Linked DNA regions of Homo sapiens. The protein of the gene in region 2 interacts with the protein of the main gene of each other region in a biochemical or structural test. Each region holds a gene or a part of one and is shown on either strand. Other genes may lie near its edges. The genes, in order: MCAM and SHROOM1.

Region 1 (11,513 bases), on a different chromosome or scaffold from region 2:
ATTTAAAAGATTTCTGGTTAAGGGAGGTGGGGGTCACTGTTCATCACTCTTAAAATATGTGTTTTCTCTATAGAAAAGTAAAATGTGTTTATGGTCCCAAACAGTCAACTCACAAATTTTTATAACAAAATTTCCTTGTAAAAACTAGGGACCATCTATATATTCCCTTTAAGATCTAGTTCTTTTTGTAGGTGTTCAGCAATGGTGATAAAGCAGAATATTCTCCTACCTCACGTCATTAAAGTCAGAAGATTATAGACCTTCTCAAACTATAAGTCCCTCTTCTTGCCGTTGGCCTTTCTGACTCTGGAATGACCACTGTTCATTGAAAAATAGTTTTCTGACTATTGGTCTGGCTCTAACAGTTTGTTTGTTCATCCAGCAAATGTTTATGAGTGATGACCATGTGCCAGAAATGTCAGGTATGTGTCCTTCCCTTGGCGCCACATAGTAGTTTACTAATGTTTGGGGGATTGTACTTGGACTGTCATAGCCTCTGCGTTTGACCTTAAAATAGCTCTTCCCAGTAAGATTGTGCAATTTTTATTCACAGCTCTTCCATGTAGACTTACCTTTCCTCATAGAGCTATCCTGGTTAATAACAGGCCAAGATTCTCCCATTATCCCCTGTTGTCTCCTGTAGCTTTGATAATGCCTGGGAGATTCCTTGGTGTAAGTGTCATGGATACCGACTGTTTTTATGTTGGAATTTGTTCCAACATAATTAGAATCTGTTTGGTGAGTTGAAAGGTAAGTTGGCTCAGAGTTGCACAGTAGGGCATTAAATGTTTAAGCAAAGCATCTGCCCACACTCCCCTTTCCAATCTAGTGCCTTCCTTGAACTTTTTCCTGAGCTGCTACGTCCCTAATCCCCCTTGTTGGGAGGATTTTCGTATCACCCTTATGGGACCTGTCACCATGTCCTGTACTATTTGGAATTGGTTTTCCAGTCTTTCAACAACCGTTGTGGCTAACTATGTTTTAGAAGGGCTGGAGGTGTGGGCCCTGTCTTCGGGTCTCAGGACCCAAAGATCCTTTAGTCAGTTGTTGGGTCTTCCAAGAGCCAGACATTAATACAGATTGAACTCCATCAGTCCCCTAATTGTCAGCCTTTACCTCCCTCCCAGAGCAAGGAGTTTAGGGATTCTAAAGCTTAGTGTCCACACATCATTCTACCAGACCTTAGAGCTTTAGAAGCTCAATCTAAAATACTGTAACTCAGCATAAACTATTACTATCACTCCTTTGAACTCAGTCTCCATGAGCAGTGTTTTGTTGGAAATACATAGAACGGCTTAATGCCTAGAGGGTGGTGGATAGTGAAGGACGGTCAAGGTTATATTTTTGACTGCTTAGGGATTCTTTGGATCCAAGAAACAGAAATGTTCAAGCGGAATAAAGGAGGGAGTGGAGTTGTGGTAAGGATGCAGGGTATTTCGCAGAACCCAGGACGGGAAGTGCCTTTGGTTCTTGGGTGGAGCTGGAACTGCAGAGCTTTGCACCTAGTCCTTTCTCCCGCTTCACAGTCTGCTTATGGTATATGTGGCCCCCAAATAGGCACTCTAGTCCTCAAGTCTACACCACCTTCCAACTCTGGGGATCACCATGAACAAATTCTCAATTTCCCATACTTAATTTTTTTTTTTTTTGAGATGGAGTCTCGCTGTGTCGCCCAGGCTGGAGTGCAGTGGTGCAGTCTCAACTCACCACAACCTCTGCCTCCCAGGTTCAAGCAGTTCTCTGCCTCAACCTCCCGAGTAGCTGGGATTACAGGCGCCTGCCACCATGCCCAGCTAATGTTCATATTTTTAGTAGAGACAGGGTTTCACCGTCTTGGCTAGGCTGGTCTTGAACTCCTGACCCTCATGATCCACCCACCTCGGCCTCCCAAAGTGCTAAGATTACAGGCGTGAGCCACCGCGCCCGGCCCATACTTCGTATTCTTAAAAAAAACTACACTCAGCCCAGCACATTGATCAAGTATCTATCTCTGAGCAGTTGGCCTTGCCAGGGAGAGCAGAGATGTGGCAGGCTCCTTCAGCTGGAGACAGGGAGCTTCTCAGAGAAGTGAGCAGAGACTCCACAGACACCCTAAAAAGGCTTCTACTCAAGAAGTAAAGCCACTACTCCTGCCTTTTTGCTTAGTGGACAGGAAGGCACAGGAGTTTGTCTGGGACATCATAGAAATTCTTAGGTTTAACTTAATTCTGGTCATTGTCTTCTTTATTTCCTGTTTTTCTTCCCTTTGTCAGTCTTCGCATCCAAGATTTCTTCCCTCCCTCTTGTGGGCCAGCCTGTCCTGTTCCAGAGCTAGCCTGTTCCTGGGTAGCCTTCCTTAGCCTCCATTCAGCCTCAGGTCTTTTGCCTTCTTCCGTGTTTATTTAGAGAGCAGAATCTAATAACGGGTTCCACTGTAGCCACTATCCATGGACTTCTGGGTCCTCTTCAGGTTTGAGTGCTTGAAAATGTTCATTCTCTGGGCTTGTGGCCTGTCTCCTCCACTCTCCTCCTCACCCTCTCGCTCCTTCCTGTGTGAGGGCCGCTCTGCAGTAATGTTCTCAGGCAAGCCTTCCTAGGCACCTCAGAAACTACTTTGCCAGAGCCAGTAAGAATATATAATATTGGAGCAGTTGCCAGGATAGAAATTAAATATAGATTCCAGTTTAGGATAGAGTTTTTACCGAGAGCTCTTTAGACAGTATACCTGTGTCTTCTCTGGCAATTGCTTTCATTTTAGTCCTATATAAAAGCTTTCCTTTTCTGTTTTTTTTTAAAACTATGCTTTTGCTTGCCTAAATCTTTTGATCTTATATTTCTCTCATCTCAGAGCCTGTCCTGAGTTGTAAGGTATTTCATACTGCCTTACTTAAAAGTTTTTTAAACTACTAGAGTCATTTGATACACACAGAAGTTACCTAATAATCCAAAGATGTCCATCAAGGGAGGAAGGGTGGGTCATCAGACTTTGCCTTTGATGTTGTAGACTAGGCTCCTGAGTTAAGCAGCAGAGGGACAGCAGTGCCATGTGCCTTCACTGTGTCCCAGGAAATCTGGGTTGGTTCCAGTGGGAAATACCAGTATTTCTTGGTTCTGGAAAGTAGCAAAAGAGTAGGAGATGGGGAAATAGGGATGGGGAGAGCAAGCCCCGCATGTCCATGGCGAGTCAGGTGGGGAGCACGGGTGGAAGGGCCGGCTGTTGACAGACAGACTAAGCTGTGTGGTGCTCTTGCCGCCCCTTCCTGGGTACAGAGCTTGAGAAAAATGCAGCCGACCACTCCCTGTGTTTGTACAGAGCAAAGCCCAAAAGCCAACCTCAGATCTCCTGATTTGGCAGCTGAAGAAATCAGCAGAGTCCTGATTGCCTGATTCAGTCCCAAAAATGAATGTCAGGCCCCGCCCCCTCCCCACCAACATTGCCTCTCCTACATTCTCCTTCTGCCCCTAAATCAGACAGGAGGCCAGAGAGGAGTATTGCTCAATGCGTGCTATGTGCAACTCCTCAGGCCTTGTGCCACCTCCATGCTGAGCCCTGAAGCAGGGTGTCCTGGGTGCCTGTGTGTCAGCTCCCTCCTCTCTACCTACCTCTGACCTTCTTGTGGGTGAGGGTGGCCATGCTTATGGCCATCTTAAAACTGGAGAGGCAGAGAACTACTTATGAGTCTGTAGACCACGTGTTGTCTTCCATGGCCTGTTTCTCCTGCTGTCTGGGTGAGTGAGCCTGCAACGCAATGCCCATGAGAGTAAATGCCTCCTGACCTACCCTGCTCAGCACTGTTCTAGTGTCTTGGCCTTGAAAGAAAAGCCTGACTTCCTGCTGACACATGTGGTAGGGGCATGGCAGCTATGAGGCACCTCCTACGTCTGTTTTCTGGCTGTGGTGACTTGGGATTTTTAACCTTATATATCTTTTTCCTTTACTCAAAACAAAACAATTTTTAGCACACTGAAAAAAAAAAAAAGCCAAATGTTTTGTGCCTTTCTAAGGCAGCACTGTATCCCAGGCTGCATTTTAGGACTTAATATGGAAATACCAGAGTCTGAGCTCCTCTACCTTGAGTTTCATTAGTCCTTAGTGTCTAGGAGACAGGAAAGAATGCTCTCTGTGACTGGAGAGGTGACATGCAGGTGCAGTGTGTCTGGAGTCCCTTTCCCCTGCTGTGAGACTTCAGTGGAGGAGAGAAGCATTGTACCCTGGGATCATTTGGTTGGTTCCAATCACAAGCTTAGTTATCAGGTTGCATGCCTTGTCTCCTGCAAAAGACAGAATGTTTCACAATTCCCAGGTAAACTCTGGACCATTCCAAGTGTCCTAGCCTTCTGATGACATTAATTACCTAGTTGTGTCGAGGAGTATAGGATGGACTCTCCTGAGAAGGGGAGGTTGGTGGCTTTGTCTTTTCTTTTTGCTGGATCCTGAACTGGTCTAGACCTCCTGCCCCCACCCCCCAGCCCCCATCAGATGTGGCTGGCCTTTCATTTGAAGGCTTCAGACTTAAAGCATTAAGCAGCTAGTGCCCTCTGCAGGGCCTGGTTTCCCCAGGGAAGGGCAGCAAGGAACATGGGACCAGAAGCCTGTCCTCAGTAATGTGACTATAGTGAGCTTTAGCAAAAGTTTTTCTATATAATGACATCTTACTTATCTTTTACCCTTTCCTCAGTTTTCCCCTGCCTTTAACTAATAAAGAATTGGGAGACAGAAATTTTAAAGTCCTCCTTATTCAAGATTTTGAAATTCTTAGCCTGGGAGTGCTGGAGAGAACCTGATGCTTTCTCCAGAATGAAGAGTCCCAATTTGTATATCAGTGTTAAGAAGAAAACAAAACAAACACATAGGTGAGATTTTCGTGGACTATTTTAAAAATGTGTCATTAATATAAAAAATTTATATTAGCAGTATTTAATCATTCTCACCTGTAAAGAATAAGAAAAACAGAAGGTAAATATTCTTACAGAGAATAGCAGAGCTTTAAGATTCATTTTCATTTTAAGTCCATTTTATTTTGCCAGTGTATTAATGTTTAGAAGTCTGTTTTACTAATGTTATTTATTAATTTTTTTTCATTTCCATACACAGTTAGTTAACTAAAGAGCTTTTTCAAGCACCCATGTCTGTAAAAAAATATTTTTAAATAAAGTTTCTTTTGTTGTAGCAGACTTGAGTTCTTGCTCATTCAGGGGGTTGGGAGGCAATACTCGAGTTGCCGTAGGACCAAATGCCAAGGCCCCCTTCCTCATGGCGGTGAGCCTGAGCTGCTGTCTGGAGGGCAGTTCCAAGTGGCAGGAAAGCATAGGAAGGGGACATAGCTCCTGCTAACAGCCTGCCAGGCCCTTCGTGCTGCGTCATCAGGGCAGTTTTGCTGCTGAAAAGTAGGGTGACTGTCTGCTCTGGTAGAACTTGAGCCATTTGCTCAGAAGCAGAGGTAACCCCTGATCTCTGCTGCCAACTGGAAACGGTTTTGTGTGCCTTTTGGTTGTAGTTTCACAGGCCCCCAGGTTCCTGTGGTACCCATGATGAATAAAAAGCAATGTATGATTTCTGGGACAATTAAGCTTTATTTTTCATATATATATATATTTTCATATATATATATACATACATATATAAAGGAAACAATTTGCAAATTTACACACCTGACAAAACCATATATACACACATATGTATGCATACACACAGACAGACACACACACCCGAAGCTCTAGCCAGGCCCGTTTTCCATCCCTAAGTACCATTCTCTCATTTGGGCCCTTCTAGGGTTGGGGCCCTGAGCTTGGTTTGTAGAAGTTTGGTGCTAATATAACCATAGCTTTAATCCCCATGAAGGACAGTGTAGACCTCATCTTTGTCTGCTCCCCGCTGCCTTTCAGTTTTACGTGATCCATCAAGAGGGCTATGGGAGCCAAGTGAACACGGGGGATTGAGGCTAATTCACCTGAACTCGAAAACAGCGCCCAGCTTCCTCACCGCAGGCACGTATCTTTTCTTTTTTTTTCCTCGAGACGGAGTCTCGCTGTGTTGCCCAGGCTGGAGTGCAGTGGCACGGTCTCGGCTCACTGCAAGCTCCACCTCCTGGATTCATACCATTCTCCTGCTTCAGCCTTCCGAGTAGCTGGGACTATAGGTGCCAACCACTACGCCTAGCTAATTTTTTTTTGTATTTTTAGTAGAGACAGGGTTTCACCGTGTTAGCCAGGATGGTCTCGTCCTGACTTTGTGATCCGCCCGCCTCGGCCTCCCAAAGTGCTGGGATTACAGGCGTGAGCCACCACACCTGGCCCCGGCACGTATCTTTTAAGGAATGACACCAGTTCCTGGCTTCTGACCAAAGAAAAAATGTCACAGGAGACTTTGAAGAGGCAGACAGGAGGGTGGTGGCAGCAACACTGCAGCTGCTTCTGGATGCTGCTGGGGTGCTCTCCGGAGCGGGTGTGAACAGCGCACTTCAACATGAGCAGGCGCCTGGCTCCGGTGTGTCCTCACTTCAGTGGTGCACCTGGATGGTGGAAGCCAGCCTTTGGGGCAGGAAACCAGCTCAGAGAGGCTACCCAGCTCAGCTGCTGGCAGGAGCCAGGTATTTACAGCCATAATGTGTGTAAAGAAAAAACACGTTCTGCAAGAAACTCTCCTACCCGCTCGGGAGACTGGGGCTCCTTGCTTGGGATGAGCTTCACTCAACGTGGAGGAGATGGTGGTGGACTGGTCCCTGAAAAGCGGGCCTTGCAGGGCCAAGTGAGGTCCTCAGGTCCTAACCCAGTGGCCCTCTGAAAGGGGGTGTGCAGGCGAGGGGAGCAGGAGGCTTCTCTCTAGTCCCTTTGGAGGCTTTGGCTGAGAGAAGAGTGAGCAGGGAGCTGGGAATGGTCCAGGCAGGGAAGGGAGCTGAAGTGATTCGGGGCTAATGCCTCAGATCGATGTATTTCTCTCCCTAAAAGTGGGTAGAGGAGAAGAGGGGAACACGGAGACGGTGCTGAGTTGAAGGTGTGAGCACCGAGAGGAAGGAGAGATGGAAGCAGAAGCCGATGAATTTGGTGGGCAGCGTTGGGGAGGAAGCTAGGATGGGCATGGCAGGCCAGGGAAGGAGGGCGGCCCCCGTCTGACTGCACTGGTGAAATGGCCACACCCAGAGCCACGGGCATTGGTCAGGAAAAGGTGATGGGACAGGGTCTTTCTCAGTCTTCCTCCAAGCTCCCTCAGCCACTTGCTTGGCCCTGCCATCTGTGAGTAGTGTTAAGAAGGCAAGATGGGGCCTGCTCCCTATCTCTGACAAAGAGGGATGAAGGATAGAGAGAACCGTTAGTCCCTACTGCCCCCGGTCCCTGAGGATGTGGCAGGCTCTGGCCACAGGAACCGCCTCCTACCTGGTCTCCCGGAGCCCTCTTGTCACCGCTGCTGCCCTGCAGGAGGCCCATCTCTTCTGGGAGCTTATCTGACTTAACTTCAACTACAAGTTCGCTCTTACGAGACGGGGGTAGCGTGCTGGGAGGAGGGAGGGAGGTGAGAGGTTGGTATCTCAGGGCCACAGGAAGAGAAGGGCCCGCTGTGAAGGATGTGGAATGGATGAGGGCTCCTTGCTCCAGGGCCAGCCCAGGGCAGGGAAGCAGGTCATGAGACCATGTGGCTGATGGAAGCTGGGCAGTGGGTAGTGGAGCAGGCAGCACCCTGACCCAGGGCCCCACTCCTGCTGTCAAGGGGCAGGCGGGCGCTGGGCAGGCAGCAGGCTGGGTGGCAAAACGGGCGGGGGCGGAGGGGCCGGTGTTGGGCTTACATCTCCTGCTTCCCTGAGCGCCTGCACGGCAGCTTGCCCTTCTTATAGAGGAAATAGAGGACAGCGCCCAGCACCGCCAGGACCAGGATGCACACAATCACAGCCACGATGACCACGCCCCGGCTCTCCGGCTCCGGCAGCTTTCTCTCTGCGCCACAAAGACACTCCTCGTCACTCCCTGCCCCAGGCCACTTCGTCACCATCGTTGGCCCAGCCAGTCCAGGGCCGACAAGATGGGGCTGCTACTCACCTTTCTGGACAGGGCTCTCTGGGGAGGGACAGGGCAGAAAGGATGCCCTGGCACAGCCCTGTTCTCTTGCCAGGCCTGGCTTACCTGTGGAGGTGCTGTTGGCTCTGGTATGAGGACTGGCAGTGGAAGTGCTGAGGCCAGTGGTTGTGTTGGAGTCTGGTGTGAGGGTGGTTAAATTGACTAGGAGGCAGAGGGAGGGGTGTTAGGAGAAGCGCAAGTTACTGCCCGTGCCTGGGCCTGCCCCTGCCATCCCCTGCAGGGATGCAGCCCTCACCCAGCTCCAGGAAGAGGATGCTGGTGTTTTTGCCCAGGTCGTTGGAGGCCGTGCATTCAACACCTGTCTCCAACAGCTCCGGGGTCACGAGGACATTCAGGGTGCTCAGGACTCGCTGTGGATCTTGGTCTTGTTCACTTGCCTGCGAGGAAAGGAAGGAGGCAGCTCAGGGGATGGGGAGGATCTCTGGTCCTGGCCACAAAGCGCAGGCAGGGATTAGGAGAGTGTGGCAGATGAGACACCCGCTCACCGTGCCGTTGACGTTCCAGGAGATGGTGGGCCGGGGGTGCCCTGACGCTTCACAAGACAGATTCAACACCATATTCTCTTTCACCCACACCTTCCTCTCCTTGAATGCCATCCAAGGGGGGCCTTGGGGAGGTAGGGAGAGGTGAGGTGGCAAGCCCAGCTAGCCTGCCTCCCCCTCCGCACCAGAGCTCCCCAGGGCAGCAGGTGGCTTTTTGTCAAAGAGCTTAAAAACCACCCCACTTGGGGTGACCTGGTCTCTACCCAGAGGGAGGGCCTCACCAAAAATGGCCACGTTGACCAGCTGTGTGCGGTTCAGGCCGGGTATGCTGGGCACAGACGCCACGCAGCGATAGCCGCCTCCTGCCTCCCGTTTCAGGTCATGCAACTGAAGCACAGGCCCCCTTTCCAGCACCTGGCCTGTCTGGGATGAGAGATGGGTCAGAGGGTCTGGGAAAGAGCACATTCTTGTCACCGCCAGCCCCACCCACCCCATCAGCCCCTTGCCCCAGACCCGCCTGGGTACCTCTTCTCTCAGCCACTGGAACTCGAGGTCCTGGCTACTCTCTGCCTCACAGGTCAGGGTGAGGCTGCTGCCTTCCTGTCTCTCAGGGGCTGCGGGACTCACTCGGACGTCAGACACATCTGGGGGTACAGCAATCATGTCACCCAGGGCAGGGTGGGGCCAGTTCCCTATTGCCCCAGCCTGGTCCCCCTGTCCTGGGTCCCCAGCCCCTCACAGTTCACCAGTAGTTCCTGTGGTTCACTCAGCAGCGATATCATGGTGTCCAAGTCCAGGCCCTGACATTCATAGCGCCCACTGTGTTCCTTCCGGGCAGGCTCCAGCACCAGGACCCCGTTGTCGTTGGTTGTCTCTTCCTCTGCCTCCCTGGTGCTGGGGTTCTAGGGAGGATTGGGGAGGTGAGCAGAGTGCACCTCCCGCCACTCCACCTGGGTCTCTGCTTGCATCCCCACCTGCACCCAGCACAAAGCCCCCACACCTGCTTGCTGATGCTGAAGTGTGGTGGAGGGTTGCCATCAGCCAAACACCTGATTTCCACGCGGTCCCCTTCCTTCAGCATTCCCACGGGCTCCACTTCCAGCCACACTTTTTCTGTCGGGTCTGCATAGGCAAAGGGGGTAGCTCTTGGCCCATGAGTCAACCCTGGGCTGGATAAGGGGGAGCCAGCAGGAGTTTCCAGCAGCCCCAGCCCCAGTAAGCAGAGAGTCAGGTTAGTACTCACAGAAAACAGGGACGGTGACTTCCCTGGACTCCTTCATGTGGTTCCCACTGGGCAGCCGGTAGTTGAGCTCACAGTAAAACTGGGCATCTTTGTCTTCTTTAACCAGCTGTGCCTTCAGAATACTCTGCAAGGTGTACAAACCACTCGACTCCACAGTCTGGGACGACTGAATGTGGACCCCTGGGCAGGGAGGAAGGGGAGGAAGACTCAGCCTCAGCCCCACCTCCAGCCCCACCCTAGGGTTGTCCACTGGGGTTGGCAGGGGACCATCTAAATAGCCCCCTGTCCCCTGTAGAAGGCCAGGTACAAATGCAAGCTGGAAACCCTTCAACCCAGCACTTTTACTGCTCAGTGTCAACCCTAGAAAAACATTTTCATGTCTGCTCATATCCAAGGATGTGTGCAAAGAATGCTGCAATGATAAAAACGAGCAGCCGTCTAGATGTCCACTAAATGGGGAATGGTGAACTCGACTACCTGCTATGCGTAGTATGGAAAACTTGGCAGTAAGCAAAACGATCAGTTGATCTAAATAGACTGACCCAGAAACATTGTATAAAAGAAATTGTCTAACAATGTATACCATACACCACCACTTAGACCAGGGTTTCTCAGCACTACTGATAATTTTTTTTTTTTTTTTTTCAGACAGAGTTTCACTCTTGTTGCCCAGGCTGGAGTGCAGTGGTACAATCTCGGCTCACCGCAACCTCCACCTCCCTCCCGGCTTCAAGTGATTCTCCTGCCTCAGCCTCCTGAGTAGCTGGGATTACAGACATGCGCCACCACGCCCGGCTACTTTTGTATTTTCAGTAGAGATGGGGTTTCTCCGTGTTGGACAGGCTGGTCTTGAACTCCCGACCTCAGGTGATCCGCCCACCTTGGCCTCCAAAAGTGCTGGGATTACAGGCGTGAGCCCAGCCAGCACTACTGATGTTTTAGGCCACGTTGATTCTTTATTGTGGGGGCTGTCCTGTGCCCTATAGGATGTTAGCAACATCCTTGGTCTCTCTACCTACTAGATGGCAGTAGCACCCCCTCTATGTGTGACAACCAAAAATATCTCCAGACATTGCCAAGTATCTCCTAGGAGGAGGGGGTACAAAATCACCCCTGGTTAAGAATGACTGATTTAGATAATAAAACACAGAAGCCTATATCATTCTAGAAATATTTCTATATATGAGCAAATACATAGAAATAGGCTTGAAAGAACACACCCTGATAGCAGAGATTATTTCTGGGAGGGGGGGTCTCAGGCAAGAAGAAACTTCTAGATTTTTTGTCAGTTTAAATTCTCATGAAAATATTTTCAAGTACCATTTGTATAATTTTTTTAAGTTAAAAGCTTAATGAAAATATAAGGCAGTTCCTGTGTAGTACCATAGGGACAGCTCTTTTTAAGAGATGGGGTCTCGCTCTGTCACCCAGGCCGGAGTGTGGTGGTGCAATCCTAGCTCACTGCAGCCTTCATTTCCTGGGCTCATATGATCCTCCTGCCTCAGCCTCCCAAGTATCTGGGACCACAGGCACACACCACCATGCCTGGCTAATTTTTTTATTTTCTGTAGAGACAGGGTCACCCTATGTTGTCCAAGGTGGTCCTGAACTCCTCACCTCCAGAGATCCTCCTGCCTTGGCCTCCCAAAGCACCGAGATTACAGGTGTGAGCTACCACACCTGGCCCAAGGGTGGCTTTTGGGAGAAAGGGCTACTCACGGTTCTTCTCCTCCTTCAGA
Region 2 (15,879 bases):
GTACCCATGTTCCTTTCCTCCCCAACCCTGTTCCACCCAGGCTGCTTCCTGGCCGTTCTGTTGGCTTCTCCATGTGATCTTTCCCTGATAAACAATGGTCAAGAACACTCTTGTGACCTCAGGGGAGCTAAGAAAGGAGGGGTGGGGGAAGACCCAGGGCAAGGGGCAGAGGCAGCTTCACAGCCTTCCTCCCTCCCTCTGTGCCTGTTATGTTCCAGGTGCTTTATATAAATATTTATTTTGATCGTTGCAACTGCTGTCTGCATTTTACAGACAAGGACAATGAGGTTCTGAGAGGGAAATGATTTGTCCAGGGCCACACAGCTGGGACGTGGCAGAAGCCTGCCTGGAATCCAGGCCTGCCTCCACGCTCACTGCAGCCAGAATCAATTTCCTAGAAGCAAGCCCTGCTGAAAGGCAGTTTACCATCCCTCCTGTTCCCCAACAGCCTGAATCCTCCAAGGAAGCCCACACTCCACTATGGGAAAGTCACCCCTACCTCCCCATACACTATTGGCAGATTCCAAAATAATCTGGCCCCCACTTCTCAAACTCTGCCTTTCGTCTAGGAATGATGGGCCGACCCCCATCTTTGCCCTGCTTCTATTCTTGCTTCTCCTGTAGGACTCAGCTTAGAGGTCTCCTCACTTTTTGGGACTCCTACAGTGTGCTGAGCTGACCCCCACCCCACACTGTCCCTGTTGGCTTGCTTCTGATTCCCTCCTCCCATTCCCACCCCTGAGCTTCCTGAGAATGGGCCCTGCTCTTCCTCATTGCTGCACTCTCAGTGCCCAGCAGAGTCCCTGGCATACAGTCAATGTTAAATATTTGGGCCGGGTGCAGTGGCTCACGCCTGTAATCCCAGCACTTTGGGAGGCCGAGGTGGGCGGATCACTAGGTAAAGAGATCAAGAGCATCCTGGCCAACATCGTGAAACCCCATCTCTACTAAAAATACCAAAAATTAGCTGGGCGTGGTGGCACACGCCTGTAGTCCCAGCTACTCGGGAGGCTGAGGCAGAAGAATCGCTTGAACCCGGGAGGCGGAAGTTGTAGTGAGCCGAGATCGCGCCACTGCACTCCAGCCTGGCGACAAAGTGAGGCTCTGTCTCAAAACAAAACAAAACAAAACAAAACAAAACAAAACCCCAAATATTTGCTGAATGTCAAGGGAAATAACAGATTTGCAGGGAGTAGATGTAGGGGTGGCCTTGGTAGAGAAGGAAGAGAGTTCCTTAGCTTCTGCGCACGCTTCTTCCCTCCCTATTAGTCTTTTCTGGGGAAGAGGACAGAATGGGTGAAGCACTTGCCACCATAGACACTGGCCAGGTTCCTCATGCAATATTAGGTACGAACAGAGCAGGCAAGCACAGCTTGGGGCAGGACTCACCAGAAATCAATCCCTTCTGGTCCTGGGAGGGGGATCAAGGGTAAGAGTTGAGTGGGTGTGCCTGGGTCAGGGTAAGAGAAATTTTGAGGCTTGGGAAAGGGCAGTGTTGAGGTTTGGGGCTCCCTATGAACTATGGAGACTTTTGGGCGCTGGCCTCCATTCTCTGAGCTGCTTGGTAGGGAGTGCAGAGTAGGGTGGCCCACGGCTAGGGTGAGGACCAAAAAGCAGGCTTATTTGAGCCTCCTAGACACTATCTGGAGCTCAGAGTCACCCTCCACCCACGTCCCTGAGGCCCAGGATGTTACAGATTGCTGGTTAGGGCAAGGATGGGGGTTAGTGGTAGGAGGATATGGTGTTTCCTAAAAGGGAAAGGCAGTACCTACAACATTCCCAGGAGAGGCTCTCAGCAGACCTAGGACCAGAACATCTTGATGTCACCCACCTGGGGGCATTTGTATATGCCTACTAAGCCCAGGAGCTTAGCCCTCACACTTAGGGTTGGGGACCTCTTTTGCAAAGTATTTCCACTCTAAACTTTAGGAGGACAAGAAACTACTCTGAGTAGCAGCTCCTGGGAGGACAGTCCCCTCATCTAGGAAGCCCACCCGACTGCTCAGACATTAGCCCTTTCTCTTCCTACTCTTTCTGAGTCCAGCTTGGGAGCACTAGCTCATGTCACCCATCCTGCCCATTTTGGCTTGCTGCAGCTACAGATGGGGATCACCAAACACAAGATGTTTCCTCAAAAGAGGTCTTGAAAATCTATGAAAATCTATCTTATTTGTGAGTTACTATGTTAAAGGATTCTGAATTCAGCAAATAAAAACAGCTTGAATGGGCAATAAAAATGTGTCTACACATGTGTTTCCTTATTGACTGTAACTTGTTGAAGATGCTTTTGCACTGGTGGCCCTATCAGGTTGATGTTCACGCAGGCTCCTCACAGTGGGTGCTTTGCAGAACCTACCATGCCAAGAGGGCCCAGCTGCTTTGGTGTGTTTTGGGGGGCCTCAGCACAAAACAACAAGGCATTTTCATACTTGTCTGGCTGCAGGGAGCCTCTTGCAGTCCAGCCAGCCCCTGTGGCTGGGGGTAGCCCTACCTTAGGGGTCCCTGCCTCAGTGGCAGTGGTACCTGTGGGCTGGGCTGTTATGCCTGTGCCGGCTGCTGAAAGGGAGTTCAGAGGTGGAGCTCAAGGAGCTCTGCAGGCATTTTGCCAAGCCTCTCCAGAGCAGAGGGAGCAACCTAGACTCCCCGCTAGAAAGACACCAGATTGGAGTCCTGGGAGGGGGAGTTGGGGTGGGCATTTGATGTATACTTGTCACCTGAATGAAGGAGCCAGAGAGGAAGGAGACGAAGATGAGATTGGCCTTCAAAGCTAGGGGTCTGGCAGGTGGAGGCACCAGTCTGAAAGGAGGAGCTGGGGCTGAGGAATTGTCAAGGGGGCCAGTGCTCCTTCAGTCTGGGCTTCATGGTGTCTGTGACAAGTCAGGCAGCAGTTGGGATGTGGCTCTGGAGTTCAGCAGGGGAGGGTAGACCAGGCAAGACCCAGGTTTTTAGTTAGAGGTTACTGGGGAAATAGCTGAAGACAGTTTCCGGTGGATAAAATCACACCAAGGCAATGGGAACAGATCCAAGTAAGGCGACCGAGGAGGCACAGGAGAACGGACAGCCTCAAATACAACGAATGATCAGGATTTACATCATACCTCCCTCAAGGCCACCTCACATCTGACCTCTCTGTGGAGGGGCTATCCAGGCCGCCCCTCCCAGCGGGTCTTCCCTCAGTACTGGGCTCACTGTGTAGGCGCTGTCTCCCTGTCAGACTGAGTTCCTGGGTACTGGACCACGTCTCAAAACCCAGTACCCGCAGCTGGGTCTGGCTAGGCGGACGTTCTGGGAAGTTCACCGGCTCTCCCTGTCCCCAGCGTCCCCCGTTCTCCCAGCCTGTCCGCGCTGACAGCGCACCCCACGCAGCATCCACGCTCCGAGTGTGCGACTGGTTTACGGGCTCATCGGTCGCTGCACCCCAGATGCAGAGTCTCTGGAGACCCGAGCTCCGTGCCATGCACAGGAAATGCAGGAAGCTGGCGACACCCGGGGAGAGGCGGCCGCGGGCGTGGACAGACCCGGTTACCTGGGGTTCAATCTCTGGGAGCCGAGGCACGGGAGGGAGAGAGGCGCAGGCCCCGGCGGCCGCAGGGGGCGGCAGAGACACGCGGAGCGGCTCGACAGCAGATGGCCGCAGCCCCGCGCAGTTCTGGGCCTTTCCCGTTGGGTTCACCGTCGGGGAAGGATCGCGCGCAGGGGACAGCGCGAGCCCGGGAGGGAAGGACCCGGCTTCTCCAGATGCTTGGCGACAAAGGGCAGGAGCGGAGGGTGGCGGAGTGAGACCGCGCTGCCCGCCGGCGCCACACGCGGCGCGCCCAGCCGCGCCCCTGAGCCGCGCCGCCAGCTTAGAGTGGGCCGCCTCTCCGCCCTGCAGCTCTGCAGCTGGGAGAGGCGCGCTGGGGTCCGACTCCACTGGCGCAACCTGACGCGGCGCCGAGCCAGACACGTCCCGGCCGAACGATGCCCGGGCTGCCCCGCGACCACCGCCTCGCCGCCCGCTCTTCACCCCCGTCCGCCCGCAGCCCCGCCGGCCTCCCGGGGGAAGCGGACCCAGCCGCCCGCTTCCCGCTCCCCCGCCCCCGCCGCGTACCTGAGGCTCCCGCCGAGACGCGCTCCTGGGCCGTCGCAGCCGCGCGGTGACATCAGAGCCCCGGGCTCTGACTCCGACCCCACCTCCAGGCTCCGGCCGCGGCCTCAGGGGAGGCGCCACGTCCGGCCGCGGGGGCGGGAGCCGCAGCCTCTTGGTAGCGTCCGCGCGCCGGCCCAGTCCCAGGTCTGAGGGTGGACAGTGCGTTCCCGCGCGGGCCACAGGCCTCTTGCCCCAGGCCGGAGAAACCTGAGCGAGGTGGTGGGAGGGCGACTACGGCGACCGCCCACCGGCCTCCAGCGCGTCCGTGATGCTCGGGGGCCGGGTCCCTCGGGGCCTGACACCTCCCTCGGTGGGGAGGTCCAGGGCGGGCCCTTAGGCGCCTGACGGCTACCCGCTTTCCCCCCCAAGCCCGGCCAAGAAAACAGAGCTGCCAGGGCCTCGTGCCTCCCACCTGTCCCGCTGAGTAACTCGGCCCTTGATCAACTCTACCCCCAGACCCCCATTTCCAAAACTCTTCCAGCTCTTTGACTCCCACCATGGGCTCTTGTCTCCTGTTCCCTGTCCCATTTCTTTCCATTTCTCCCACTACCCAGCATGGTCTGGGCCCTCCAGCCTGCTACCGGGGTGGGGGAGAGGGGGGCGGAGCACGGGGAAGCCCCTGGACTTGTGTGCACCTTAGCTGTCCTGAGTGTGTCCTTAGGGAGCTGGACATATGCATACCCACTAAGGCTGGACACTGGCGCTCGAGGCCCTCACCTTCCAGGATCTCCATTTTCCAAAGAACGCTCTGCCTGCACCTGCCACTGAGCTCTCCTTGCTGTGTCCTCAGGCTCCCCTGCCCCGACTTCCCAAACTCTGTCCTATGAATACCACTCTGCCAAGAAATGCTCCGTTCCTGAGAGGGGCTGGGGACCCTTTGATGAGCCTCTCCGGCTCTCAGGTCTCTGCCTTTGTCCTCCGCTGCCCTCCCGCTCCCACAGGATCAACAGGGCTGGGCTCAGGGGCTGTGTCCTCCCATGGTAGTATCCCTGGCAAATAAAGGTTTATTGGTGTTAATAACCAGGACTCTGAACTCTGGCCAAGAGTCAAGGTTGCCACTTCCTAGGGACACTGGGAGCCTGAGGAACTCTGTCTTCTTGGGTCTTCTTGGGTTCGGAGGCAGGAGACACCTGAGCCCGACTTCTGAGAGTGGTGCCCGCTGGGCCCTGCTCCTTCTTCAACACCATCTGGACTCAGGCACCAGCTTCAGCTGGAGCGCTAGGCTTTAAGACAGTGCCTAAGAACCTTTCGGCTTTGAAAGACTTTTGTTGTTTGTTTTGCTTTTTTGAGACAGAGTCTCCCTCTGTCGCCCAGGCTGGAGTGCAGTGGCCGGATCTCTGCTCACTGAAACCTGCGCCTCCCAGGTTCAAGCAATTTTCCCTGCCTCAGCCTCCCAAGTAGCTGGGATTACAGGCACCGGGCACCACGCCCAGCTAATTTTTGTATTTTTAGTAAAGACGGGGTTCGCCATGTTGGCCAGGCTGGTCTCAAACTCGTGACCTCAGGTGATCCACCCACCTTGGCCTCCCAAAGTGCTGGATTACAGGCATGAGCTACCGCACCCGGCCTGAAAGACTTTTAATATTTTTAAGACCCTGATCCACAGAGTCTCACAGCAGCATCAAAATAGAAGAAAGACAGCCCAGCAAACAACAACAAAAAATTTTTAATTGCTCATGTTGGCTGGGGCGGTGGCTCATGCCTGTAATCCCAGCACTTTGGGAGGCCAAGGTGGGCAGATTGCTTGAGCTCAGGAGTTCGAGACCAGCCTCGGCAACATGGCGAAGCCCTGTCTCTACAAAAATACAAAAAAAAATAGCTGGACGTGGTGGCACGCACCTGTAGTCCCAGCTACTTGGAAGGCCTAGGCACAAGAATCGCTTGAACCGAGGAGGCATAGGCTGCAGTCTGCCGAGATCACGCTACTTCATTCCAGCCTGGGCAACAGAGTGAGATTCTGTCTCAAAAAAAAAAAAAATGGTTATGTTTTTTACTTATATTTCTTGAAAACTATGGGGACACAGTGTCCAGAACAATTCTATTAACCCACTCCACCCACCTACCACTCACCTCTTGCACACACTACAGCACCTCTCTGCTAGGGACCATGAGGACGCAGTCCAGAGCGATTCTTATTAACCCACTCCACCCACCTACCACTCACCTCTTGCACACACTAAGCAACTCTCTGCTAGGGACCATGAGGATGCAGTCCAGAGCGATTCTTATTAACCCACTCCACCCACCTACCGCTCACCTCTTGCACACACTAAGCAACTCTCTGCCTAAGTCCCCAGAAAACTGAAATCCCACCTACCCACGTCTCTCTTAACCTCTTCTGTTCTGAGAAAGAGAAAAGTAACCCCTAACATCTGAAAGGCCCAGCTGGACCTTGGTGTTGCCAGAATTTGACCTGACATTCACAGCAAGGCCTTACTGTTGTCCCATTGGACATAAGCCATTTCACAGGGCATCAATGTGAGACAGGGCCGTTCTTTAACAATGATGGATCAAGACAAAAACAACAGCACTCTAATCATGTCTAACACATACAAAAGCATGAACATTGTCCAAGTCACAAAAATGACCTAGCTAATGAGTGCCTGCTGTCCTAGCTAATGTGAGTACCTGCTGCTTCTTTACCAATTGCAGCTTTAGCCTCACTCTAATCATTCCTCTTTCTAGATAAGATTTATTAATATACCCAATCATAGAATTACTCTTGCTTCTTGACAGCATCCAGCACAAAGGAAAGTTCTGCTTCTTTAACCCTCTTGAAAAGCACTAACCCAAACCCAGATCCTCTAAGTCCTTTCCAATGCTCTCTTCCTGAGATGCCACGTGGTTTCCCATGCTACGTGTCCTCTCTCACTTCAACAAGCAATGAACCCAACTTGTTCAACTACAGGTGTGCTCGTGGTGGTCTTTGGCTAGGGGGCACTGATACTTCCTATCTCATTATTACAAAAGCACAGAGAATCTTGGAGAAGAGAAGGGGGAAGAAACTGCCACAAAGCTGGAGTCTCCCTTAGTGATGGTGGTTGGGGGGTGAGTGTGCATGGAGAGGGTGGAAACATGCACATATGCTTCCAATACATAAAGAGAGGTGTCTGCACCCTTCAGTATCTCAATACTTTCTCAGGCCTGGGGGAGTTCTTTTGAAGAGACCCTTAGATGGCTGTGTTTAGCTGGGATTAGAGCCACAGACCTTGCTGTTCCTGGCCAGGCCCTATATCAAGGAGCTGATAGGTGGGGAGGTGGTGGGCCTCCACTCCACATAGTTTGGCACTTGTAATCTGAACTGATGACACCAAAGCAAAGCAACTGCCCACCTCACAAGTCCCTGTGGTTTCTTGCTTTGATGCCCACTCTCTTTGTTGGATATGGTTAATGTGATGTGACTATGAGTGGAATACTAAAGACCACTTCTTTAGTGCCAAGCACTGTGCTAAGTGCTCTATGTATCTTTTTAGCCCTCTTACTCCTCAGAAGTAGGTATCAGTATAACCCCATTTTACAAGTGAGAAAGCTGGGACTTAGAGACATTATTTTGTCAAGGTCAGGTAGCTAATAAGCAGTAGAGGCAATACTTAACCCCCTAATGTCTGGTTCCAAAGGCCATGCTGTCATGTAAACATGAGCAGTGTAAAGAACTGTATGTTGTGGATATCAATGCAGCCTTCCTAGGAGAGCAGGATTTGGACTTCAGATTGAGCAGAACTCGCAAGCGAGCGGGAAAGATGAGACAGTAGCAGCAGTGAGACTCCAAACAGGACTTCCCCATCTCTGTGTGTCCCCAACAGTCCAACACATATGAGGGCTTAGTTTCATATATGATTTCCAGGGGTTTATTGTAAAGGACTTATAAAAACATTTCTTTCTGTAAGTACTTTTTTTTTTTTCAATAGAGATGGAGCTAGGTGTAGTGGCTCACACCTGTAATCCAAGCACTTTGGGAAGCTGAGGTGGGAAGATCACTTGAGGCCAGGAATTCGAGACCAGACTGAGCAATGCAGTGAGACCCAGTCTCTACCAAAACAAAATTTTTTTTTTTTTTGAGTAAGAGTCTCACTCTGTCACCCAGGCTGGAGTGCAGTGGGGTGATCTCAGCTCACTGCAACTTCCGCCTCCTGGGATCAAGTGAGTCTCACGTCTCAGCCTTCCAAGTAGCTGGAATTACAGGGGTGTGCCACCACATCTGGCTAATTTTTGTATTTTTAGTAGAGATGGGGTTTCACCGTGTTGCCCAGGCTGGTCTGAACCCCCGACCTCAGGTGATCCACCTACCTCGGCCTCCCAAAGTGCTGGGATTACAGGCATGAGCCGCCGTGCCCAGCCTTCACCTTTATTTTTTTCATTTGAAAGTATATCTTAGAGTTTATTCAAAGTAAGTACATAGGTTTTCTTGTTTGTTTGTTTGTTTTTTAAGACAGGCACATAGCTATGCATTGCATGGGCACAAATAAATTGGGTTAAATAACCCTATTATTGGACATTTAGATTAATCCAGTCTTTTGCTATTACTATTTTAGTAACAAATACCCTTGTTCATTTATTTTTGTTCACATTTGTAAGTCCACTTACAGGATAAATTTCTAAAAGATGAATTGGTGGGTTAAAGTGTAGGTAGTAGATTGTACTTTACAAAGACAATCATGAAAAAATTTTCCACCTCCCAAGCTTTTCTACAATGTGACTTTGCCACTACTCTACCCAGAAGAGGTGAGGTCTATTTCTCCATCCCCTTGGATAATGAGCTTAGGGGTGACAGTAACTGTTTTGACCAACAGAATGTAGCAGAAGGTATGTTGGGCTAGTTCTGGACATAGCCTTTAACTGGCCTGGTAGCTTCCACTTCTTGCCTCTTGGTAGTGCTACTACTCTGAGACCACTAAGCTATGAGAAATACAAGCTATATGGAGAAGCCCAGGAGTATGAGATAGCATGTGGAGAGGGAAAAGAGAGGCCAAGGAGCACTTAGGCATTGCACAGGCAAGTAACCAGGCCATCTTGGAAGCGAATCCTGCAGTGTCAGCCACCCCCGCTGACACCATACTGATCAGAGAAGAATTCCGCAGCCTAGCTCTTCCTGAATTTCTGACCCTCAAAAACATGAGCACAATAATTATAAAAGTGCAAACTACTAAGTTTGGGGGTAGTTTGTTACATGGTAATAGACAACTGTAACAGGGTACATGAATTTTCTATTTTGATTGATATTGTCAAATCACACTTACAAAGAGGCTATACCAATTTACAGTCCCATAAAAAATGTATACAAGCACACTGAGATGGTTTAGATCTGTGTCCCCACCCAAATCTCATGTTCAGTTGTAATCCTCAATATTGGAGGTGGGTCCTAGTGGGAGGCAATTGGATCATGGGGGCAGTTTCATCATGAATGGTTTAGCACTATCCCTGTTGGTCATGATAGTGAGTGAGTTCTCATGAGATCTGGTCATTTAAAAGTATGTGGCACCCACCCCTCCCCCTCTCTTGCTTCTGCTCTGGCCATGTAAAGGGTACCTGCTTCCCCTTTGCCTTCCACCATGATTGTAAGTTTCCTGAGGCCTCCTCAGAAGTGAGAATCTGCATTTCCTGTACAGCCTGCAGAACCGTGAGCCAATTAAACCTCTTTTCTTTGTTAATTACCTAGTCTCAGGTATTTATTTACAGCAGTGTGGGATTGCATTAATACACTCACTAACACAGTGCATTATCAACCTTTTTTTAGACGGGGTCTTGCTGTGTTGCCCAGGCTGGATTTGAACTCCCAGGCTCAAGTAATCCTCCTGCCTCCGCCTCCCCAGTAGCTGGGACTACAGGTGCACACCACTGTGCTTGGCCTTTTTAGCTTTTAAAGTGCCATGGACCATCCTGGCAGCCTTAGTCCAGGTCAGAGTGTGTAAGTGTTCCCAGTGCCATTGAGACTTGGGGTGATCCCCTTTGCCCACCAGTCTCTGTGGGACCAACCCCTGCCCTCTGGGGCCTCAAGTTTCCCTTCTGCAGAATGAGTGCTGTGGCCAACAGCTCCTGGGCCTGTCCCCTGCAAGCAGCCTGCCCCTGCAGGCACATGCCACCATGCCTAGTGCATTATCAAACTTTTGGATCTCTGAAATCTGAAAGGTAAAAATAATATCTGTCTTAATTTATATTGCATATATTATAAATTAGACTACACACCATTTTGTGTATTTTAAAGCCATTTGTATGTGATCTGGGATCTGTCAATTTTCTTTGCTCATTTTTCTATTAGATTATTGGTCTCATTGATTTGTAAGACCTCTTTAGGGCTGGGCACAGTGGCTCATGCCTATAATCCTAGTAGCATTTTGGGAGGCTGAGGTGGGCAGATTGCTTGAGCCCAGGAGTTGGAGACCAGCCTGTCTCTACAAAAGATTCAAACATTAGTTGGCCATGGTAGCACATGCATGTAGTTCCAGCTACTCCAGGGAGCTGAGGCGGGAGGATCACCTGAGCCCAGGAGGTTGAGGCTGCAGTTAGACATGATTGTGCCACTGCATTCCATCCTGAGTGACAGAGTGAGACCCTGTCTCAAAAAAACAAAACAAAAAAAAACCTCTTTATATATTAAGGTGATTAACACTTTTTCCTATGTGTGGCAAATATTTTTCCAAGTTTGTGTCCTTTGATTTTGTGTGTGGTTTAACAGTGGATCTGTAGTTCATAGGTGAAGCAACAGATGTGGTTTTGTTTTTTTTTTTTTTGAGATGGAGTCTTGCTCTGTCGCCCAGGCTGGAGTGCAGTGGCGCAATCTTGGCTCACTGCAAGCTCCGCCTCCCGGGTCCACGCCATTCTCCTGGGACTACAGGCGCCTGCCACCACGCCCGGCTTATTTTTTGTATTTTTAGTAGAGATGGGGTTTCACCATGTTAGCCAGGACGGTCTCAAATCTCCTGACCTCGTGATCCGCCGGCCTCGGCCTCCCAAAGTGCTAGGATTACAGGTGTGAGCCCCCACACCCAGCCCAGATATCTTTCTTTTAGGCAGCAGCTACATAGCTGGGCTACATAGCTGTCTCAATAATTCAGAGATGGTAATGTACTGGTTAAAGTATATTAGAGGTCAGAAACCTTTCAACAAAATCATGTTGTTTATTTTTAGAAATTCAACAAAGCGTGAATTATTGCTTATACACAAATGTCTACCTAAACTGTAAATGTTCTTCTGGGGTAAGTTTGTTTGCTTTCCGATTATGCACTGAATTCACCACAGTTGTCTAAAGATAGGGCTTTATAGGAAAGTAGAAAGTGCACAAGAAGGAAGTGCAGGGAGAATGAAGATTGCCTTCGCCGGTGGGGACACCTGACAGGCAGGGCCTCTTGGTGAGGCTGGGTGAGGGCTGACTGTTCCAGAGATTGAACCAGATTCCCTTTCAGATCAGCACTTCCTGGAAAGGAGTGCTGGGCTGTCACATCCCCATTAAGTACACATATGTCACCTTTTCCCTGCAGACATTGGGTGACACCCAGCCTCTGTTTGCTTTGGTCAGAATGACTTAACTTTTCTACTCCAGCCTGGCCCCCAGCCCCAGGCCTGAAACCATTCCATCCTTGTGGTCTTCATTCAGATGTTACTCACACATCCTTGGACAAAAGAGGATTCATGAAAAAGATGGATACAGGCTTCTTCTTCTCTGCCAACTTCAGTGGGCCCCGGACAGATAGGTGTGGGCAAATAAGCTTTTCCACTTTGCTCTTCTGGTCCCCTAAGGTTCATTTTGGTTTTCAAGAAAAGAAACTATCTCAGGCTCTGAACTCGGCCCCAAAAGCATTGCTTAGAGAAGGCAACAGCCTCCTCAGGCCCAGGAATGGCCAGACTGTCTCTCTTGTGTCCAGATCATAAAATGGGATGAGATAGTCTCTAAAAAGCCCCTCTCCTAAAACTGTCATTCTGTTTGAGCTAAACCTCCCAGATTTCTGCTTGCTGAGGAGTCACCCAGAATATTCAATGGAAGAAAAATCCAATTTGTGAGCTCTGGACCCCAGGCTGCACACAGAAGCTGCGTGATGGACTTGGTACAGAATTAGGTCACAGCATGCTATGTGCATGTGGATGAATTTTGGCTGGTGGCTCAGGAGACTGAGAATGCATGCCCTAAACATTCACCTAGAAAACTTTCCTGATTTTAACTGTGGTGTATCTCGTCAGTTACTCACATAGAGGACACTTTGTTCTAAAACCCGGGGGTATGCCCAGCATTCATCACAGTCTGGGCACTGTGTTTGTGGTCACATTTACCCCTGGCAGGGTCCTTAGGTCCTAGTTAGCAGCTTTTTCTACTTCAAGGGAAGCAGCAAGAAAAGTAAAAGACAAAACAAAAAACAACATAGCAAGTTACTTTTGACTTTCCTAGCAAATCACCTAGCAAGATGAAAGGGGAATGTGTCTCTTAACTGGATGACACCAAATGAATTATGGGGCAAAGGGCAACTGACAGCAACTGCCTAGGAGTGGCAGAGACAGATTTATAGACAGGCTCATTGCCCACCCTTGATTTCTCAAAATGAAACAGGGAGAGAAAGGTGTTCTTCAATTTGGTGTATCCCAGAGATAGAAAATCAGTGAAGTAGGAAAGAGTGTGAGTTTCAAAGTATGGTGACTTCAGTTTGAATACCAGTAGCTCTATGAACCTGGAGATGTCCCCACCTTCCTGAGCCTCCATTTCCTCATGTGTAAAACAAGGATACTACATACCTGCCAGATAAAGATTAAAGGAGATTTGATCACATAGAGTAGTGCCAGGCTCACAGTGGGCCACCAATAAGTGATGTTAGTTATCATTATTCCTCACTTGAGTTTCTCCTGAGAAATACAATCTCAACTAAACCCCAGTCCCAATTTTCTCTCTAAGGACTGGTTTATCCACCTGGGGTCTCCCATAGGTGTTGCTCATGCTGCTGGTAGTTTCTCTCCTAAGCTTCACTCACCATTCCGGCAAACAGGGCTGTAAACACTTTGTTCATATTGTGTAAGTCTTGGGGAGACAGAACTCCCCCTCCTGCTTTGAAAGCCAGCCCAGTCACTGTACAGGCCTGAGACCTGGACTTAATCAATTTGATGCTTCTTCCAGAAGCTGGGACTCTTACGTGAGTAAAAGAGAGACACTGGGACAGGTGAGAAATGATCACGAGTCAGGAGGCGCAAGGACAGTAGCAATCCCGGCCTGTCCCCTGCTCTTGCTGCGCAGCCTCCTTTGTTCTTGTTTATTTTCACAGCCTGGTTCTCCAGCCTTCTAGTCAATTCTGTGAACCACTAGGTCTCCTCCCAATACATTCCTTTTTTGAATGAGTCAGGCAGAGCTGCTTGCTATTGTTTGAAACGAAGAAGTTTCTAATGTGGAGCCAAGACACCTTTTTCATACTGCCAGGCAAGAGGAAAATCCAGCCTGTTGAGATTTGGGTGTTGAGAGCTGCCCTTTCCCTGGGAAAAGCAACTACTAGCAAAGAGGGCAAGAGAGATTTCCATAGCTGCCCCAGGGTTCAGGGGAGGCAGTGTCTCTGCCCTTTGATGTTGCTGGAAATCCTCTAACAACGCTTACACAATCTCAAAACTAGCAACTCAGGAAACAGGATAAAGCAGTGCAAGAGAAATACAAGGCAGGCAAGTTCCTGGTTCAAAGTCATAAACATTTGCCATAAAAATGAGAACAAGATTTCCCTTGATAAACAAAACAAAGGCAAGAAAATGTGGAGATTGGTTGCTTTTTCCTCTTGCTGTACTAAGGAGGGTTGACCTTGATTCTACCTTTTCTTTGCTCGACAGCATAGGCAAAAAGACTAAGCTGAAGTCAGGCCAGGGAGGAGACATAGGCGTCCATCCCATAGTTACCCCAACAGGGGACTGGGTGTGTCCTGAAGTTTCCTTTTTTCTTCCTTTCCCCACTAGCAAATGTCCCTGATAAGAACCCATCATGATGCTGAGTTACATGACCCCTGAGCCAAGTATCACCTCATCAGTGAAGCCTTCTTTGATATCCCCAGGTAGAGTTCGTTGTTCCCAGCCCTACATAATACTGCATTGGAGAGTATGTGGTCATTTAGTTGTCTGTCTGCCTCACTAGACCTATAGTGAGTGCTTTGATGGAAAGGACTATGCCTGGCAGTACCAGGCTCAGAAGTAATCTCAGAGTTTGTTGAATAAAATGAATGTGGGAGACCTGACTTCATGTGAACAGCTGTGTCATTCCTCTATTCTGTGAGTTCACAGTTGATAGCAACATGCCAAGAATGGCCTTGGCCTCCAGGCCCCGTATGTGTGTTGGTGGGGGGTATGGGAGTGGGAGAGTCCATGCAAACAGCATTTAAGGCACCAAATGGCCCTCCTAGGGAAGTGATTAAATTGAATAAAAGGACTTATTTAACTAGCAAGCAATTATTGAGTGTTCATGTACCAGTTGGCCCATACTTAAGGTAAGAGGCAGTGAACACATGTCCTAGGAGCCAGAAAGGAAATCAGCAGTACTCCTTCCACCAAGAGCCATTGCTGACAGCCCCTCTCTGCCCTGGCATCAGCCAGGGCCTGATGGCTCTGTCCATGAGCAGACTCATTGTCAGCCCTCACTTGGGGAACTGACTTTTTTGTTTAACTTTTTTGGGGCTTTCTGGCAAAAACCAGAAAGCCTGCTAGACAAATTCTAAGAGCTGTAACACTGGGAACCAACTTTTTTTTTTTTTTTTGAGACAGAGTCTTGCCCCGTTGCCCAGCCTGGAGTGCAGTGGCGAAATCTCAGCTCACTGCAACCTCCGCTTACTGGATTCAAGTGATTCTCCTGCCTCAGGCTTCCAAGTGGCTGGGATTACAGGCATGAGTCACCATGCCCGGCTAATTTTTTGTACTTTTGGTAGAGACAAGGTTTCACCATGTTGGTCCCAAACTCCTGACCTCAAGTGATCCACCCTCCTTGAACCAACTTCTAAAAAAACATTAGACCCTGGGGCCAGTCATTTCCTTCAAGTCACCACACTTCCTATATCACTCTCTCCTCTTGGTGGTTTTGACAAAAAGATGTGACTTGCCATACCCTAAGAAGCTGCTTTCTTTTCAGAGCAGATTGCTTTGGTCACTCACTTGGGCACAGCAATGAGAGGTCTAGGGAGGTGCTGCCATGAATGGAAGCAAGGACTTTCAAGAGAGTTCATTTGGACCCCATTCTTTTCTTTTTTTTTTTTTTTGGCAGAGTTTCACTCTTGTCGCCCAGGTTGGAGTACAGTGGCGCAATCTCAGCTCACTGCAACATTTGCCTCCCGGGTTCAAGTGATTCTTCCGCCTCAGCTTCCGGAGTAGCTGAGATTACAGGCATGCACCACCACGCCACGCTGATTTTAGTATTTTTAGTGGAGACGGGTTTTCACCATGTTGGCCAGGTTGGTCTCGAACTCCTGACCTCAGGTGATCCACCCACCTCAGCCTCTCAAAGTGCTGGGATTACAGGCATGACCCACCGTGCCCGGCCTAGATCCTCTTTCTTGGTTCTTGGGATTGGATTAATAACCTTTATTAGTGATGGTGGTAGGTCCTTGTTTATAATTATTCTGTGAACAAGCGTTCTTTTCGAAAACTTTATAAGTGCCTGAAAAGGATTAAAAATAGACTGGGCACAGTGGCTCACGCCTATAATCGCAGCACTTTGGGAGGCCGAGGTGGGCGGATCACCTGAGGTCAGGAGTTTGAGACCAGCCTGACCAACATGGAGAAACCCCGTCTCTACTAAAAATACAAAATTAGCT

The links.
Region 1: the proteins of SHROOM1 (region 2) and MCAM form a complex in vitro, tested with the Homo sapiens proteins (one study listed by BioGRID).

Annotation. Positions count from the first base shown.
Region 1 is NC_000011.10:119,302,996-119,314,508, forward strand, and holds the end of MCAM (cell surface glycoprotein MUC18 precursor), read right to left. Parts: coding exon 11,494-11,513; intron 10,018-11,493; exon of another isoform or gene 9,955-10,017; coding exon 9,775-9,954; intron 9,654-9,774; coding exon 9,532-9,653; intron 9,434-9,531; coding exon 9,271-9,433; intron 9,176-9,270; coding exon 9,057-9,175; intron 8,955-9,056; coding exon 8,813-8,954; intron 8,657-8,812; coding exon 8,535-8,656; intron 8,427-8,534; coding exon 8,285-8,426; intron 8,191-8,284; coding exon 8,095-8,190; intron 7,909-8,094; coding exon 7,761-7,908; intron 7,472-7,760; coding exon 7,354-7,471; intron 6,921-7,353; coding exon 6,891-6,920; 3' UTR 5,534-6,890; downstream 1-5,533. UniProt on the Homo sapiens protein: Plays a role in cell adhesion, and in cohesion of the endothelial monolayer at intercellular junctions in vascular tissue.
Region 2 is NC_000005.10:132,826,504-132,842,382, forward strand, and holds the start of SHROOM1 (protein Shroom1), read right to left. Parts: upstream 4,145-15,879; 5' UTR 4,091-4,144; exon of another isoform or gene 1,105-4,090; 5' UTR 958-1,104; exon of another isoform or gene 85-957; 5' UTR 1-84. UniProt on the Homo sapiens protein: May be involved in the assembly of microtubule arrays during cell elongation.